2 linked regions of the Homo sapiens genome follow. The protein of the gene in region 1 purifies or fractionates together with the protein of each later gene. This does not show direct contact. Each region holds a gene or a part of one and is shown in the gene's direction. Other genes may lie near its edges. The genes, in order: TMEM238 and TRDN.

Region 1 (3,314 bases):
TGGATGGACGGGTGAATGGACAGATGGGTGGGTGGGTGGATGGGTGAATACATGGGTTGGTTGATGCAGGGATGTGGTTGGATTGACGGATGGATGGGTTGTTTAATGGGTAGATATGGGTAGGTGGTGAATTGGGCAATGAACCATGAATGGATATGGTTGGAGAGGGAGCCCTGCCTGATAAAGGGGCAAGAGCTTTTCCTGATACTTCTCTGTGTCCTCGGCCTCACCCATGCAGCATGGTACTGGGGAGGCCTCAGAGACTCCTACTGAACAAAAGAAATGAGGGTGCCTGTGTCACCTCCCCAGGGCACCTTAACTTGCGGTTACACCTGGGAACTCCTTGGGGCAGGGGCCTCGGCTGGTCCATAGGACTATCCATAGGACAGTCAGAGTTTGCCCAGCCTCTGTGCGCTCTCTGGATAGATAGGTAGATGGGTGAATGGGTAGTTGAATAGATGGTTGGGGCTGAATGATAAGTACACAGATGAGTGGATGAATGCATTTAATGGCACATGGATGGTTGGGTGACTGAATTCATCTCTCAAATAGGGTTTTGGTAAAAGAATTAAACCCTATTATCCTAGGACGTTCTATGTAGGTAAATAATTAACTTTTTTTTTTTTTTTTTTTTTTTTTGAGATGGAGTTACACTCTTGTTGTCCAGGCTGGAGTGCAGTGGCGCAATCTCGGCTCACTGCAACCTCTGCCTCCCGCGTTCAAGCAATTCTCTTGCCTCAGCTTCCCGAGTAGCTGGGATTACAGGCATGCACCCCCACACCTGGCTAATTTTGTATTTTTAGTAGAGACGGGGTTTCTCCATGTTGGTCAGGCTGGTCTCAAACTCCCGATCTCGGGTGATCCGCCCACCTCGGCCACCCAAAGTGCTGGGATTACAGGCGTGAACCACCGTGCCCGGCTGGAATTAACTTTTCTCCTATGCATCCAGAATGCTACCAGTTATATATTATTCTTTGTGAGATTTGGGGAAATAGTCACCCCAATCATATGCTACGTGCCGTGATTCAGTGAAGGAACTGGGGTAAGAAAGCATGAACATCTGCTTGCACGGGTGAAGCGTAAGCTAACATGAAGCTTGGCATAGAATGCAAACATAAGCACCTGTAGTTACTGTTACCTTTGGAAATCCTGGCTGAGCACAGTGGCTCATGCCTGTAATCCCAGCACTTTGGGAGGCCGAGGTGGGAGAATTGCTTGCTTGAACCTGGGAGGCAAAGGCTGCAGTGAGCCAAGATCACGCCACTGCACTCCAGCCTGAGTGACAGAGTGAGAACCCGTCTCAAAAAAAGAAAGAAAAGAACATCCTTTATGAGGTTGGGCATGGTGGCTCATGCCTGTAATCCCAGCACTTTGGGAGGCCGAGGCGGGTGGATCACCTGAGGTCAGGAGTTCGAGACCAACCTGGCAACCATGGTGAAACCCTGTCTCTACTAAAAATACAAAAATTAGCCAGGCATGGTGGCGGACGCCTGTAATCCCAGCTACTAGGGAGGCTGAGGCAGGAGAATCACTTGAATCTGGGAGGCGGAGGTTGCAGTGAACCAAGATCGTGCCACTGCACTCCAGCTTGGGCAACAGAGCAAGACTCCATCTCAAAAAAAGAAAAGGAGAGGAGAGGAGGGGAGGGGAGGGGAGGAGGGGGGAAGGGGGAGGGGAGGGGGAAGCAGGGAGGGAAGGGGGGAAGGGAGGGGAGGGGGAAGGGGGAAGGGGGAGGGGACGGGCAAGGGGGGAGGGGAGGGGGGAAGGGGGGAGGGGAGGGGAGGGGAGGAGAGGAGAATCCTTTACGTAGCTTAAACGTCTAACACAGCTGCACAGGCCTCCACTCTTGGAGCCTCCACCAAAGACTCAGACCACACTGACTCGAACGTAGGCCCCACTTAGAGGAAAATGGGCCTGTTCAAACCCAGGACTCTTGTTTACTGGGGAGAGTGAGCAGCTTCCAGCGCATGAAAGACAGAGAACCTGAATTTTAGCAGAGGGACCCACAGGTTCTGGCTCTGGTACCCCCACAACCTCCGAGACCACCATGAGTAGCCGGGCAGAGCCACCCCCATCACTCTGTTGTTCAGGCTGGAGAGCAGTGGTGCAATCACAGCTCACTGCAGCCTCCACCTCCTGGGCTCAAGCAATCCTCCCACCTCAGCCTCCCAAGGAACTGGGACTACAGGTACCAGAGACGGGGTCTTCCTATGTTACCCAGGCTGGTGTCAAACTCCTGGGCTCAAGTGATCCTCCTGCCTGCAGCCAAAATGCTGGGGTGAGGGTCTGAGATGAGGACCACGATGCCCGGCCTCCTTCTGTCTTCACTGTGTCTGCCTGTCTCCCTCTCTCTCACTCTTTGTCTCTGTGTCTCTGTCTCCCAGGTCTCTTTCTTTGTCCCTGTGCTTCTGCCTTTCCCCTTCTGCATGTCTTCGTCTCCCCCTTTCTGCCTCTCCCTGGCTCGCATTCCCTGGCCTCTACCCTTGGATTTCAGGGCGTTAAAGGTACACACGCATGCACACACTCAGCAAATGGGGGCATGCAGGGATGAAGGAGCAAGTGTGTGAGTCCATGTGAGCGGCAAGGGCAGGCGGATGGGGCTCCCTGCCTCTGCCCCCGCAGGCAGAGAGCCCGGAACAGGGATGGGAGGGGTTCCTGAGCAGTCGCTCACTCCACCCTCCCTCCTGCAGACAACCCCTTGGCTCCAGCTGTCAGGACCAGACTGAGATGTGCAGCTGCCCCTACATCCGTGGCCAGACGGACGCTCCCTGTACCCCCTCCCTCCTCACTTGGATAAAAAGCAGATTTGCCTTAGTGCTGCATGTCTGTCTGGGAGAGGGACCCTGCTGGGGTGGGAATGGAGACGAGGTGGCTTGCTTCCTTCTAGCACCCAGGTGGGCCTGGCCACACCTGAGGTGAGGCTGCCCCTGCCCTGGGGAGACCAGGAGCCCTGGGGATATAGGAGCCTAGCCTTATGCTGGCCCCTTCTCAGAGGGGGCCAGAGAGGGGGCGGGGGATAAGGATCTTAGCCCAGACCCTCCACTCTAAGCCCCAACATCCCTGTGTGAGTTTGGGTTCACTGAGAAGCAGACACAGAGACAAACTGGACTTGCAAGATATGTCTTGGGGAAACACTTTTGTAGGGTAGCTTGGTGCAGGGAGAGGGAGGGAGGGATGGGTAGGACTAGTCTTAGACTGTACCGCACCTCCAAGAAAATTGCCACTGGCCCCTGGGGAGCTGGGAGCTGAAGTCATCGTCCATGAGGGAGGCCCCTGCCCTTCGAGAAGGCACCTGTACCCGGAACCCCCACCCC
Region 2 (3,829 bases), on another chromosome or scaffold:
TTTGACAGGAAGGGGTAGGAACTGCATCTGGAAGGGGCACTGGGGAGCAGGTAGTACCATCTTGAGGTACATTTGTTGTGAGAAAACAGCCAACATTCAAGCCAGACTTAAAACAATTGCAGTGTTTTAGTTACTGCTACACATGGGCAGGCTGTTGAGGGTTTACCCAGGAAGATAACCCTGGCTTCTGTTGCTCTCTCCTAATACCTACTGTGGATTCAAACAATGGGATCCAAACTTACAGTTTCAGCCTTCCCTGAGAAAATGATGACTACCCCACACTATCTGGGGTAAAATCCACTTAGTGTATGTTAAATTAGAAACTTTGGATTTGTAACTTACACAGCAAAAAAGAGCTAAGCCAGTCAAACTCAACTATGGCAAAGGCATCCAGAAATGAAAGTGTTTATAAAGCTCTGTGAGGAGAAAGGAAGGGTTTATACACCTGCAAATCCAGAATGAGAACTCAAGTACTCAAGACAGACTTCAGCCATCAAATCCAGGTTTAGAGATTCTAGATTTGTCTATAAACTTCAAGAGATTTATAGCTGATTTCCCATAGAGAGTGAACATAGTCAAGCTTTAAGTGAGTTATTAGTCATTATCTGGAAATAACAGCTTATGCACGTTTATTTTCATTGGAAATGGAAGAAGGGAAAACAGATAAATAATGTTTGCTCATTTATACTTATAAACTGAATTCCATAAGACTATTATAAAGCCATGTTTTTCATAAATTGATATTTACTATTTAATAAAAAATCTTTTCTTTTGATTTAAATTTTTCTTTGAAATTATTTTAAAATTAAGCTTCATATAGTAATTAGTATAAACTGCAAATTCATACAAAGCTGTTTTACTATTGTTTCTTAAATTATTTCCTTGATTCAGCAAATCAAATTTTTGCCAGAAAAACTATTAAATAGTTGTTTAGGGTACTTTTAAAAAATGTTAGAAATGTTTATTAGTCAAAAATAGTCTAAGGGATATATGTCCTTCAACACATGTGCACTAATGTCCTTAAAGATTACATACTCAGAATTAGGAGAATTGACTTTAAATCACCTGAATATATTTTCTTAATAGTATTATTCACACAGTTACATGAAAAAAATTGACATTTAAGTAAAAATCTCAGATGCTCTATCTTGGGTACAGAGGCTATGTAATAATAAACCTTAGTTGAAAGTGAATTCAAGAAGATCTATTTCATTGTAATTATTATTTTTTATGTGTAAGCTTTTCTTTCATGGAAGTATAGAGGCAATGAGAGCTTTAAAGCAGTAGGTAATATTTTATAAAACATTTATAATACATATTCTACATTTTAAGTATACTTTTAACATTATTATTGGGGAGAAATTCTATAAATTATTCTTGTCTTATAAGTTATTTTACTCATGTTTACATTTACAAATGTTGGTTTAAGAAGGAATTTGGGGGCAATGTAGAATGATAGTCTTTTAAAACATTTGATTTTTACACATCTAAATGACTCTTCATTAATACCCTTCTCAATTCATATATATTCAATAATATTTAGTCATTTTTTATTGCCTAAATTATCAGGCTGTAGCATTTTTTTATTCAACTGCCCTATATCTACCTAAAACATTTTATTTGAATACACTTAGTTTTATTTGTTGAGTTACTGCTATTCTTAACAAAATAAAAATTCAGCCAGTTTGTTATTTATGGTTGAAGTTTGCAGTTTTTAATTTGGTATGGAATAATGGTGTAGTCGACTAATCTCAGGGTTGCAGTATTGATTATTAAACAGATTATTAATATGGATGAAATATTTGATTCTGCTAGCCTGTGGAATCTGTTGTTATATATAAATATAGCTTCAGGGTATTACATGTAGTACCTAGTGTCTTTATATTCTTCATGCATATTTTTCAACTTGTCAAAATTTTAAAATACTAAGTTCTATTACTAAACACTTCATGATGAGACCCCAAGGCACTGAATCTTTAGAAAATACTATATTTTATTACATAGTTGTCTAAAAATTATAAGTATGAAAACCAAATACTGTTATAAATCACATTTTCGGAAAAAATTATTTGTTGTGTATAGTGGTATACTTTGCACATCTGGAAGTGTGCTTTTAAGCAATATTTTTCACACCAGGGTATACATCATGGATCTGTTAGCACCTCACTTTCTAAGGGGTATAAAACTGCAGAGAGATTTAAAGGAATTGAATGTCATTTGAATGTTTTCCTAAAATTGATCTGCTTGAGAGCATGCCCGGTTTATAACCGTACTATTTCCACTTCAAATATAAATAAATCTGTTGTTGGTTCTTTGTGGTATTCAACGTTACTTGGAAGGAGACAAAAAAATTAAGTAACATTGCCCCAATAAGACTGTGTGTGTGTGTGTGTGTGTGTGTGTGTGTGTGTGTGTGTGTGTGTATGTACAGATGTGCATAAGGCTTCTCAATACTTGTATCTTTAAAAGTAAAATATAGGGTTAGATTTATTGATGAACGCTGTCTCATTCTAACTGTAAAATACATTAATCCACAGATAGGTGATTTTAAAGCTCCATTCATTCGATGGCATTCTAAAAAAAATTCATTTTTCAGGTTTAATAATAACTTATGAAGATTTGCAATATATTAACCTTTAGATTCTTAGATTCTTATAGTCTAAAGGTTAATATATTACAGGATGTGAAATCACAGAATATGGAGGAAATTTAAAATTTTCAATATGTACACTTTTTTCCTTAGAGAATCATAATGTAGCTCTTGGGTAAAATTTTCGTGAGAGAGGTGGAATGAAAATATGAATTCAAAGAGAAAAGAGAAAGATGAAAACCTTCCAAATGTTAAGAAATAATTTTTTGATAAATATTTTAAGTTGATAATGACATCTAAAAATATTATAGTGTTTGGAGTCCATCAACTCAGTTTTTAAAAGGGATATGGCAACTTTATTTTTAAATGTCAACATTTACAATAATCTATAAATTATATCACTTGTAATCCTTCAACTTATGATGAAAAATTTTAGAACTTGTAGGAAGGGATGCAGAGTTTTGCAAAATTTCTAAGAAATATAAAAGGGAAAAAATTGAGCATGATTGTAATAGAAAATAAACATTTTGCTTTCTGGGTAACTCCTAGGTTTCTGAGTGAGAGCAAAGCACAGAGGTCTAAGATTCACGACGGTACAATGTATATCCTTAGCTAATCACTAATACAGAATTCGGACATGTTTTATGCCTTCTGGGATTAAACTCAATCAACAAATGTATTTTTTTCAATTAATCTTTTTCAAGTGTTTTCTATGAGCCAAGCAATGAGCTGGTGGAAGAGAACATGTACTATTTGCTTACCACATTCCCAAAGACTAATGATGAACATTTATTAAATAAAATAGTAAATGACAGTAATGGAGTTTTGATGTGGTATTGCTAGCATCAGGATCAATGCAACATGTTATTTTATAGCTTACGTAATTGCAAAGGTGTAAAAGATCACCTTACTTAGTAAAATGTCCTGCAAATACCACAGTTAAAAATTTAATGAATACATGATCAAATAAGGCAGTAAATAAGCTAGAATAGTTGGGGCATTGTATATTTGATAAAGAAGAGGGTAAATCTTTATATGATGTTATTAATAAATTGAACTGAAAGCATATGAAAATGTGAATAATAGTAATGATATCTATTTTTTAGAAATATAAATTTTAATTCCCTTAATTATTCATAAAGACCCAAAGTTAAAGTTAAAACCAGGGCCAGACGCAGTGACAGACAGACAGACACACACACACACACACACACACACACGCAAACATGCACACACTCA

Evidence for each region.
Region 2: the proteins of TMEM238 (region 1) and TRDN purify together in Homo sapiens (co-immunoprecipitation; one large-scale study listed by IntAct). This does not show direct contact.

What each region holds. Positions count from the first base shown.
Region 1 is NC_000019.10:55,378,744-55,382,057, reverse strand, and holds the end of TMEM238 (transmembrane protein 238), read left to right. Parts: intron 1-2,690; 3' UTR 2,691-2,814; downstream 2,815-3,314.
Region 2 is NC_000006.12:123,542,841-123,546,669, reverse strand, and holds part of TRDN (triadin), read left to right. Parts: intron 1-3,829. UniProt on the Homo sapiens protein: Contributes to the regulation of lumenal Ca2+ release via the sarcoplasmic reticulum calcium release channels RYR1 and RYR2, a key step in triggering skeletal and heart muscle contraction.